2 linked regions of the Homo sapiens genome follow. The protein of the gene in region 2 interacts with the protein of the main gene of each other region in a biochemical or structural test. Each region holds a gene or a part of one and is shown on either strand. Other genes may lie near its edges.

Region 1 (4,932 bases), on a different chromosome or scaffold from region 2:
TATTATCAGAGCCAAGACAATGCCCAGCACTTCCTAGGTTGATATTGATATTGTCTCTTTTTTTTCCTTTTTTTTTTTTTTTGAGTTGGAGTTTCACTCTTGTTGCCCAGGCTAGAGTGCAATGGCATGACCTCGGCTCACTGCAACCTTGCCTCCTGGGTTCAAGCGATTCTCCTGCCTCAGCCTCCTGAGTAGCTAGGATGACCGGCATGTGCCACCACGCCTGGCTAATTTTGTATTTTTAGTAGAGACAGGGTTTCTCCGTTGGTCAGGATGGTCTCGAACTCCCAACCTCAAGTGATCTACCCGCCTTGGCCTCCCAAAGTGCTGGGATTACAGGCGTGAGCCACCGCACCCGGCCAATATTGTCTCTTGACTGATTTCATTCATGTTGATGAATAGAGAGGGGCCTGGGGGCCCAGCAGGAGCTGGGAGCATGGGGGGCCTCCATGGGCCTGGGCTAGGGGTCACTCACAGCCAGGCGGTTCTGCCGCTCCTTCTCCCGCTCATTCCGGATGCGCTGCTGCTCGGCCCGCTCTGCCCGACGTCTCTCCTAAGGAGAAGAGGCAAAGCCCACCCAGGTGTGCATAGGGAGAAGGTGACATCGCAGGTACAGAAACCTGCATGGGGTGGCAAGGGAATTCCTGGGGGAGGGTTCCTTCCAGAGTCTTGAAGCAATGGTGCCCGGCCTCCAAGGGCCTCCACTTTCAACCAGCTCCACGGACGTGCACACCAGGGTACCTGCAGTGACCCACCTCCAACATTCCTCATGGTGAGACTGCCCTCCACAACTGGGAGACATCAGGCAGGCTCCTTCTGGGCTCTGCCCCCACCTCCATCCCACCCTGCCCTGGCAGCTGCTCTGTGCCATATGCTTGGATAGATGGCCAAGTCATTGCTCCAGCCAGAGCAGCATGTCTGTGGGAAGGCAAGTTTGATGGGGAGAAACAAAAGCAATCAAAGCAGCCTCCACGCTCTGCAGGAGAAGGATGTGGGATTCTGCAGGTCACACTCCCCTTCATCTGCGGGGGAAGAGGAGGCAAGGGCAGGGGTGGCGCAGCAGGCCTGTGACCAATCAGTCCACAGCCCGGGCCTGAATTAGGCCCTGGGGGAGGCCTGAAACAGATCAGACTCAGCTCTGGCAGTCAAGGAGCATCCAGTAGGATGGGGAGGGAAGGCAGGGACCCGAGAAACCAGTCAGGGCTGCAGGAGCTGTGCAGAATGCTGGAGGGCCTCTGAAGGAGACCTCACACCTAGCTGGGTTTGAGGCGCCGAGGAAGGCTGTCTGGAGGAGGTGGGGCCTCACAAAAGGGATGGAGGACAGACTGGGCCATCAGAGAATGTTAGGTGGGCAGACTGGACACCTACGATCCTGTCTTTGAGAGAAACGAGCTCCTCCTCCTCTTTCTTCCTGTTCTCAAAGTGAGCCTCGATCAGCGCCTGCAACTCATTCAGGTCCTTCTCCATGCGCTTCCGGTGGATGTCCTGTGGGTGGACCGCTGCGGCTCAGAGGCTGCCACTCCAAAGAGTCCAGAGGAGAGATGGGTGGGCTAGACACCCCCCAACGCAGTGCAAAAGACCTCTGGCAGGGCCTGGCGCCTGGCCAGGGAAGGGGTAACTGTGGCCTGAACCCAGGACCACGCTCATGGATGGGCACCCAGCCTGGCTGGTGCTGCACCCCATCCCACCTATGCTCTACCCCAGCCCAAGGTCACAAAATCTCTGTCACTGAGGGCCCTTGGGACTATCCCCAGCCCAGGCCTACTCAACCCACAGCCACCGCTTACATCAAAGTCCACTCTCTCTCCATCGGGGATCTTGGGAGGCACCAAGTTGGGCATGAACGACCTGTTGGAGAGAGGAATAGTCAGCATCAGCCCCATTCTGGACCCAGGGACTGAGGGTGTCCAGGACAGGCAGGGCCCTGATCCTTCCTAGAGAATCTTCCAGCACTGCCCCGACCAACCACAGCAATGATAGTAACACTGACGTCAACAATGGCAGTCCTCAGCCTTGCTCAGCACCTGGGAATACACAAAGCTCTTTCACATATGCTATTTCACTTCATGCTCATGATATGCCCATGAAGTGGGTACCGTTAATCTCACTTAGGAGAACTGAGGCTCAGGGAGGTAGAATGACTTGCTCAAAGCCACACAACTTGGAATCAAAGAAGCTGTGACAAGATGCCATGCTTCTTGGACTTCAAATCCCCTGGTGGACCCCGCAGAAACTGGCCATGAACCTGGGAGTCTTGCAGTTTGGTCCTGGTCCCAACACATACTGAGACCCAGGGGGTTCTCTGATTCTTCATGTCCCCATCTGCCCTCAGGTGTGTGGAGCTGAAATGAGATACCGCAGTGCACAAGAGGCCAGGAAGGGGGAAGGCACTGGGCAAATAAATGGATCTGGGATGTCTTGGGCTGGTTTCAGAAGGCCCCACTGAAATGGGAAGAGCCTGTGAGTGGGCAGAGGTGCCATGGGTCAACCTCTGCTGGCAGGGTTGGCATCATAAAAAGGGAAATGCTCCCTATCCCCCAGCCCCCCCCAGCACACACCACCTTCAGGTGGGCTTCACGTGTGTGGCACCAAGCCGTCCTGCCCTCTCTCAGCTCTCTGAAGCCGCCATGCCTATGCTGGCACGGTTTCATTGTTTGGCTCCCCACAATTTGCTTCCCTTAATCCCAAGGTCCCACCTCGGCCATGGAGGAGGGTGTTCTGGCCATACTGTGAGAGAGGAGAGTGTCCGTTCAGGGCCCTTCCTCTAGAAGAACATAGCCCCATCCCTGCTAGGGTGCACGATTGGTGATGGAGTGTTGGGTGGAATTCAGCCCTCACTCACTCCCTTAGGAAGAGACGCTTGTGCAGTACACAACTTGTACAACTGTACTGTGGTGCTCTGTGCCCACCAAACCCCCAGCCCGTGTCCACTGCACCATACTGCACCCCGTTCCATCATCATCCTCTCTCCCTGAGCCTCTGCTCCCGGCTCTACCCAGGTGCCTCCCCACTCACCTGGGCTTTGGTTTGGACTCCTCCATTGGGCCATCTGGAGGAGATAGAAGCACACAGCCATGGGTCAGGGGGCCCCAGAAGTGGTCCCAACTCCGCCCTCGATGAGCTAGATCCCTGTGGATTTCCATTTCCCCATCTGCACAGTGAGTCCCTCCCGGCACTGGGGAGCCCTGATTCCAGAAGCATCCAGGAGAATGAAGGCAGCGGGGGCTGCAGATGCCACACTCCCCCTCCCATAGAGTTCTGCAGGGCACACACTCACGCAGTGTGGAACTTCACACAAAGCCTTCTCTCACTCACCAGTTCTGGGCAAAGCAATTTTGCTTCTCTTGTGCTTCACAGTGACAAGGCCTTTGGAAAGGTCCCCAAGGGTCCTGGCCCTAGAATCCCCTCCCAGGTCTTTGCCTTCTTTGTTACCCCTTGGACTTCCCGGTGGCCACAGGGCAGAAGCTGATGACATGATTCCAAGCCCCAGCTGGTTGTCCCCTCCCCTTTGGAGAAGTGACTGGGACCACTTAGAACCCTGGTGAAGGCTGCAGCATGACGATGACTGCAGCAATGACCCACCATGACCATCTATGCATTGGGATTTCATCCTACGGACACCACATCCTACAAGTGATTTCACCTAAGCTCTAGGAGCTTCATGTGTGGATATGACTTCTGGGTCCCATTGCTCTGTCCAGACCAGGGGGCTGGACAATGGTCCCCTCTCCCACTGGGTGCCACCAATGCAACTTCTCTGGGAGAAGGGGCAAAGTTGAAAGCTCAACATCTAAAACTTTGGAAGTGCCACCAAGTTCTGTCCTCTCCTCTCCCAAACCCTCTCAGTGCACATCCACTTCCCTGGAAAGAGCACTGTGGGCATTCTCCTCCAAAGCTGCTGTGAGGGGTTCCTTTGCCTCCCTTGTACCTCTCTCCTGATATCCTTACCTTCAGCCTCCTTTGCTTCCTCTTCTTCTTCATCTTCTAAATGAAACACGAGAAATCAATCAAGGTCCTTGTTCTGAGCTCAAGTCCCCCCCTCCGCCACCAGCAAGAGCCTTCCCCACAGATAAGCCCTAGCCAAGATGCACTCTGTTGGTTTTTGGGGTTACAGAGCTGTCTCTCACACACACATTCCCCTGGACCCAAGACTGCCTGACACAAGAGAAGCGCTGGGTCAACGTTTGTTGATTGGGCAATCAATGGTTGAATCTTAGTCAATAGGAGAGTCAGGTGCACATGGGAAAGCCTGTTCTGGGGGGTTTCTTACTGCCTCAGGAATGGCTCCAGGGGCTCTCGCCACCCCCTGAGGCCCCTGCACCCTCAACCAGAGACTTACCTTCTGCCCTGGTCTCCTCGGTCTCAGCCTCTGCTTCAGCATCCTCTTCCGCTGCCTCCTCCTGCTCTGGAGAAGTGAAGCAGACAGAGTGAAGAAGCAGGCCCCACTCATGCTATCAGGCAGAACCCAGAGCAGAGAATGGGCAGCGGGGAGTGGGGATGGGGGTCAAGACGTCTAGGTCCAGATGAATTTGGGGGCAACCAACGTGCTGGGGGGCTGCCATTCTTGGTTTTGACTGTCGGCTACCTCCCGCCACCCAGCTTAGCCCCACTCATCCCGGCAACCTCCCTGATGATGGGACTCCACCTCATTCCCCAACTTTCCAGCCCAGAAGTTCCACCCCGTGTCTGGCACCACAGAACATGCTCTGCTTAAGCCGAGGTGTCCAGAAGCTCCTGTCCTGAACCTAGTGACTCTAGACACCCTCAATCCACATCTCAAAGAAACCAAAAGAGTACGACTGTGTGGCTGGATGGCACACTCAATATCTGGATCTTCGTACTATCCAGAAAGTGGGCAGGATTTTTCTATTTTCATCTATTTGTTTGGCAGGATGTGGCCCCCATCTCACTCAGGCACTTGGTGTAGACAGA
Region 2 (4,834 bases):
CGGAGGTCCTTGGTGCTACACAACAGACCCTGCTGTGCGCTTCCAGAGCTGCGGCATCAAATCCTGCCGGGAGGGTAAGCGGCGCCGGGTCAAGCTGGGAGAGTGGAGGGACAAGCCCACGTCCATCCACGAACCCACTGGCTCTTTGTCTCCAGCCGCGTGTGTCTGGTGCAATGGCGAGGAATACCGCGGCGCGGTAGACCGCACGGAGTCAGGGCGCGAGTGCCAGCGCTGGGATCTTCAGCACCCGCACCAGCACCCCTTCGAGCCGGGCAAGTACGCGTAGGCGGTATCGGCGTCCTGGGGGCCGGGCTAGGGAAGGTCCAGGACTCCAGGGGCAGGGCTCCGTGTAGGGCAATTGGGCGGGGCCAGATAAGCCAGAGTCCCAGGGTCTTGTTCACGCCCCATTACCGCCCCCAGGTTCCTCGACCAAGGTCTGGACGACAACTATTGCCGGAATCCTGACGGCTCCGAGCGGCCATGGTGCTACACTACGGATCCGCAGATCGAGCGAGAGTTCTGTGACCTCCCCCGCTGCGGTAGGCGGCGGGGACCAGGCCTGGGAGGGTACCTGGGAACCTTGGGGAGGGGCGTGGCTTGGCCGGGGAGGTAAGAGGGGCTGGGCGTGACCTGAGAGCATACCCCGTGGAGTACCGTACACCTGGGAAAGGCGGGTTTGGTCCCAGCCCCAGAGGGATCTCAGCTCTCGCTCGGGGCCCGACCTATCTCGGTCCATCTAAGGGTCCGAGGCACAGCCCCGCCAAGAGGCCACAACTGTCAGCTGCTTCCGCGGGAAGGGTGAGGGCTACCGGGGCACAGCCAATACCACCACTGCGGGCGTACCTTGCCAGCGTTGGGACGCGCAAATCCCGCATCAGCACCGATTTACGCCAGAAAAATACGCGTGCAAGTGAGGTGGGGGGGGGGGGCGGGCGTTGGGACGTGCTGCTGCGGGTGAGACGGGAGGAAGGTAGTCACGGGCTCAAGGCTGGAGGCTGGCGGGCTAGGGCTGAGTGGAGCGCCTGCTTAGAGACCTTCGGGAGAACTTCTGCCGGAACCCCGACGGCTCAGAGGCGCCCTGGTGCTTCACACTGCGGCCCGGCATGCGCGCGGCCTTTTGCTACCAGATCCGGCGTTGTACAGACGACGTGCGGCCCCAGGGTGAGGCCCAAGCTTGGGGGCTACAGAGCCGGGCTGGAAGCCTGGAACCGGAGGGCCGGGGCGAGGTCTCGGCCTGATGGCTGCCCGCACCCGCCACAGACTGCTACCACGGCGCAGGGGAGCAGTACCGCGGCACGGTCAGCAAGACCCGCAAGGGTGTCCAGTGCCAGCGCTGGTCCGCTGAGACGCCGCACAAGCCGCAGTGAGTCCCTGGTGCTCCCGGCCCCGCCAGGGCCCTAACCCTGGGGCGGCATGCTTTGGTGTCTGGGACCAGAGCCTGGAAATGGTTGAGACTACCCTGCCACGATTTTGCTCCCGCTTCCGCCTAGGTTCACGTTTACCTCCGAACCGCATGCACAACTGGAGGAGAACTTCTGCCGGAACCCAGATGGGGATAGCCATGGGCCCTGGTGCTACACGATGGACCCAAGGACCCCATTCGACTACTGTGCCCTGCGACGCTGCGGTGAGCACTAGTGACGCTTCCCCCATGACCCTGCCTCAGCCCCCACCCAAAGGCTGGCTCCCTTAACCCCAGTGAACTTTGTCTTTCAGCTGATGACCAGCCGCCATCAATCCTGGACCCCCCAGGTTAGGAGTTGGGCCAGTTATGGGTCAGGCCCTTTAGCCCACGACATCCACACAGTCTGGGTTTCATCCAGCCCACCCCATCCTACAGACCAGGTGCAGTTTGAGAAGTGTGGCAAGAGGGTGGATCGGCTGGATCAGCGGCGTTCCAAGCTGCGCGTGGTTGGGGGCCATCCGGGCAACTCACCCTGGACAGTCAGCTTGCGGAATCGGTGAGGCACAACTGCCTGTCTCCCACAGAGAGGAGCTGAGGTTGTGTCCTCTGTGGTTATCCCACTGGGGGCTGGGAATCTATCCCTGCCCCCAGAGGTCCTAGCCAGAAGATGGCAGGTCTAGCATCTGTCCCAGGAGTCTGTTACCTGTCCTAATTCCCCACTCCTCTAGGCAGGGCCAGCATTTCTGCGGGGGGTCTCTAGTGAAGGAGCAGTGGATACTGACTGCCCGGCAGTGCTTCTCCTCCTGGTGAGCCTCCCTTGTGTTTGGGGACCCAGTCTCATCCCACCTTCCCCCTTCCCCAGGCAAGCTAACAAGTGAGCCTTGGGGCAATGGACTGAGAGTCACAAATGACCTAGCAGAGCTTCTCTCCCAGCCATATGCCTCTCACGGGCTATGAGGTATGGTTGGGCACCCTGTTCCAGAACCCACAGCATGGAGAGCCAAGCCTACAGCGGGTCCCAGTAGCCAAGATGGTGTGTGGGCCCTCAGGCTCCCAGCTTGTCCTGCTCAAGCTGGAGAGGTATGTGGACAACCTGGGAGGGTGTGAGGTGGGGCTGGGCCTTGTGGCCTCAGACCCTGAGTGCCCCCATTCTTGCTAAAGATCTGTGACCCTGAACCAGCGTGTGGCCCTGATCTGCCTGCCCCCTGAATGGTATGTGGTGCCTCCAGGGACCAAGTGTGAGATTGCAGGCTGGGGTGAGACCAAAGGTAAGAGCACAGTGCACAGGACTGCTGGTGGCCAGGAGGCCCAGCCCTGGATCTTCCTGCAGGACCCTCTCCCTCTCCCCATTCCCCTCACTGCAGGTACGGGTAATGACACAGTCCTAAATGTGGCCTTGCTGAATGTCATCTCCAACCAGGAGTGTAACATCAAGCACCGAGGACGTGTGCGGGAGAGTGAGATGTGCACTGAGGGACTGTTGGCCCCTGTGGGGGCCTGTGAGGTTGGTGGCAGGGCCCTGGGCCAGCCCTGGAAGGGTATGGGGGGCTAGAAATGAACTATTTTATCATGAAGCAGGCTAGTCATTGCTGTGGCCCGGGGCCCTCATCAGTTCTCCTACCTGCCAGGGTGACTACGGGGGCCCACTTGCCTGCTTTACCCACAACTGCTGGGTCCTGGAAGGAATTATAATCCCCAACCGAGTATGCGCAAGGTCCCGCTGGCCAGCTGTCTTCACGCGTGTCTCTGTGTTTGTGGACTGGATTCACAAGGTCATGAGACTGGGTTAGGCCCAGCCTTGATGCCATATGCCTTGGGGAGGACAAAACTTCTTGTCAGACATAAAGCCATGTTTCCTCTTTATGCCTGTACAGATGCTTCTTAGCCTTTGCTTCCAGGAAATGTGTCAGTGACTCCTTGCTAGGGCTCGGGTGGCTTGAGCCCAGCACACCCTGGGCTAGGTGATCTGTCCAGCCTAGGGGCTTCCCCAACCAAGGCAATGTCCCTGGGACTACTTTTGCCCATGGGTGCCGTGGAAAGACAGGGCCTCACACTAGTCCTCCAGACATACTCTTGGGAAGGGTGGTACAGAGTAGTTGCTAATGGAAGGGGCTGCAGCAGGGAAGCTAGGCTGGTACAGAGTCCTGGTTGCCAGGACAGGCAGAGGCTAAGCCTCTCACTGTTCCCTCCCTTCTCACACTGGAGGCAGATGAAGCCCTTGTGGCTGCCACACCCAGAACCTAGGGTCTCTGCACCCCAGAGTGGGAGGTGGGGTTGGGGATGGTTTGGTACAAAGTACCAGCAGGAACCAGGCTCTGTGTCCTAATTTATTATGACTACATAGCCCACATTCCTCTGCCCACGCATCCGTGGAGTCCAGAGCCCAGAAAGCCTCCTGCTGCCCTGCCAGACCGTTGAGCTCCTCAAGAGCGAAGTGTGGCACAGGCTGATCAGCTCATGCAGAATGGCAGGGCTTCAGCTGCCCAAGTGTGTGCGTAGCCAGAGCACAGCATTCATGAAGCTGTCTGACTCCACCTCCACCTCTGATAATGCGTGGGTGCTTTTGGGATAGAGCAGGAGCCTGTAGGGATTAGTCAGCAACATTTAAGGTTGGAGGGTCCTCCTGTGCTCACCTGCCCACCAGCTGCCAGGGCCTTCATGCTGCACTCACCGAACAGGCACATTCCGGGTCTTGAGGGCACGGTAATACTCCATGCCCTGCTTGAAGGGCACACGCCGGTCCTCCTGGCCCAACATCAGTAACAGTGGTGTCTTCACCTGGGTGTTTGGGGAAGAGTGGGGAGCTGTGTTGAGCTGGGCCCTGGATTCTGGATGGATGGGCAGCACACAGGGCAAGGAGGGGGCTGCATACCTGAGGGATGTATCTGATGGGCGATTTGTCCAGCATCTCAGCCCACACGCTGAGGTCTGGCAGGCAGTCACTGCTGAAAGGAAAGCCAGCCTCCACCACGCACCTGCAAGACACCGAGCTGTTGCAGCCCCAGGAATTCTGGGGCTACGGGGCTCCATGAGAATTTGAGGTAGAGGAGGGAAGGGCAGGGACCTGTGGTGTATGCCTACCAGTCAGGGATGTCAGTGGAGCCCAACATGGAGGCGATGTTGATCACGGGGTTCCGGGCCACGCAGGCCCTGTAGGTCTCTGGGTACTGACCAATCAAGTGGCAGGAAATGAAGCCACCATGGGAACCACCCATAAGGGCCACATGGCTTGCATCAAAGTGTTCCTCCTGGAGCACCTGTTCCACTGCAAACTGCAGGGTGGGACAAAGCATGCTGCAGCCAGCTGCCCGCTCAGCTGAATGGAGGCATCCCCCTGGCAGCCCATGTTTCAGCCTGTCCAGAAGCCCCAGCCCCTGCTACCTGGACATCCTTCACATCCTGGTGGCCCACATTGCCTGGGAGGGAGAG

The links.
Region 1: of the proteins of MST1 (region 2) and TNNT2, one has a biochemical effect on the other in vitro, tested with the Homo sapiens proteins (one study listed by BioGRID).

What each region holds. Positions count from the first base shown.
Region 1 is NC_000001.11:201,363,823-201,368,754, forward strand, and holds part of TNNT2 (troponin T, cardiac muscle), read right to left. Parts: intron 4,406-4,932; coding exon 4,340-4,405; intron 3,985-4,339; coding exon 3,949-3,984; intron 3,050-3,948; coding exon 3,016-3,049; intron 1,849-3,015; coding exon 1,788-1,848; intron 1,486-1,787; coding exon 1,369-1,485; intron 554-1,368; coding exon 476-553; intron 1-475. UniProt on the Homo sapiens protein: Troponin T is the tropomyosin-binding subunit of troponin, the thin filament regulatory complex which confers calcium-sensitivity to striated muscle actomyosin ATPase activity.
Region 2 is NC_000003.12:49,682,389-49,687,222, reverse strand, and holds the end of MST1 (hepatocyte growth factor-like protein isoform 1 precursor), read left to right. Parts: coding exon 1-74; intron 75-155; coding exon 156-276; intron 277-420; coding exon 421-539; intron 540-741; coding exon 742-910; coding exon of another isoform or gene 911-915; intron 916-1,030; coding exon 1,031-1,161; intron 1,162-1,260; coding exon 1,261-1,363; intron 1,364-1,490; coding exon 1,491-1,627; intron 1,628-1,716; coding exon 1,717-1,752; intron 1,753-1,840; coding exon 1,841-1,961; coding exon of another isoform or gene 1,962-2,001; intron 2,002-2,133; coding exon 2,134-2,211; intron 2,212-2,267; exon of another isoform or gene 2,268-2,338; coding exon 2,339-2,485; intron 2,486-2,566; coding exon 2,567-2,673; intron 2,674-2,769; coding exon 2,770-2,909; intron 2,910-3,033; coding exon 3,034-3,195; 3' UTR 3,196-3,276; downstream 3,277-4,834. Other genes in the region: APEH (acylamino-acid-releasing enzyme), read right to left, coding at 3,881-3,986, 4,077-4,183, 4,278-4,380, 4,487-4,677, 4,787-4,834.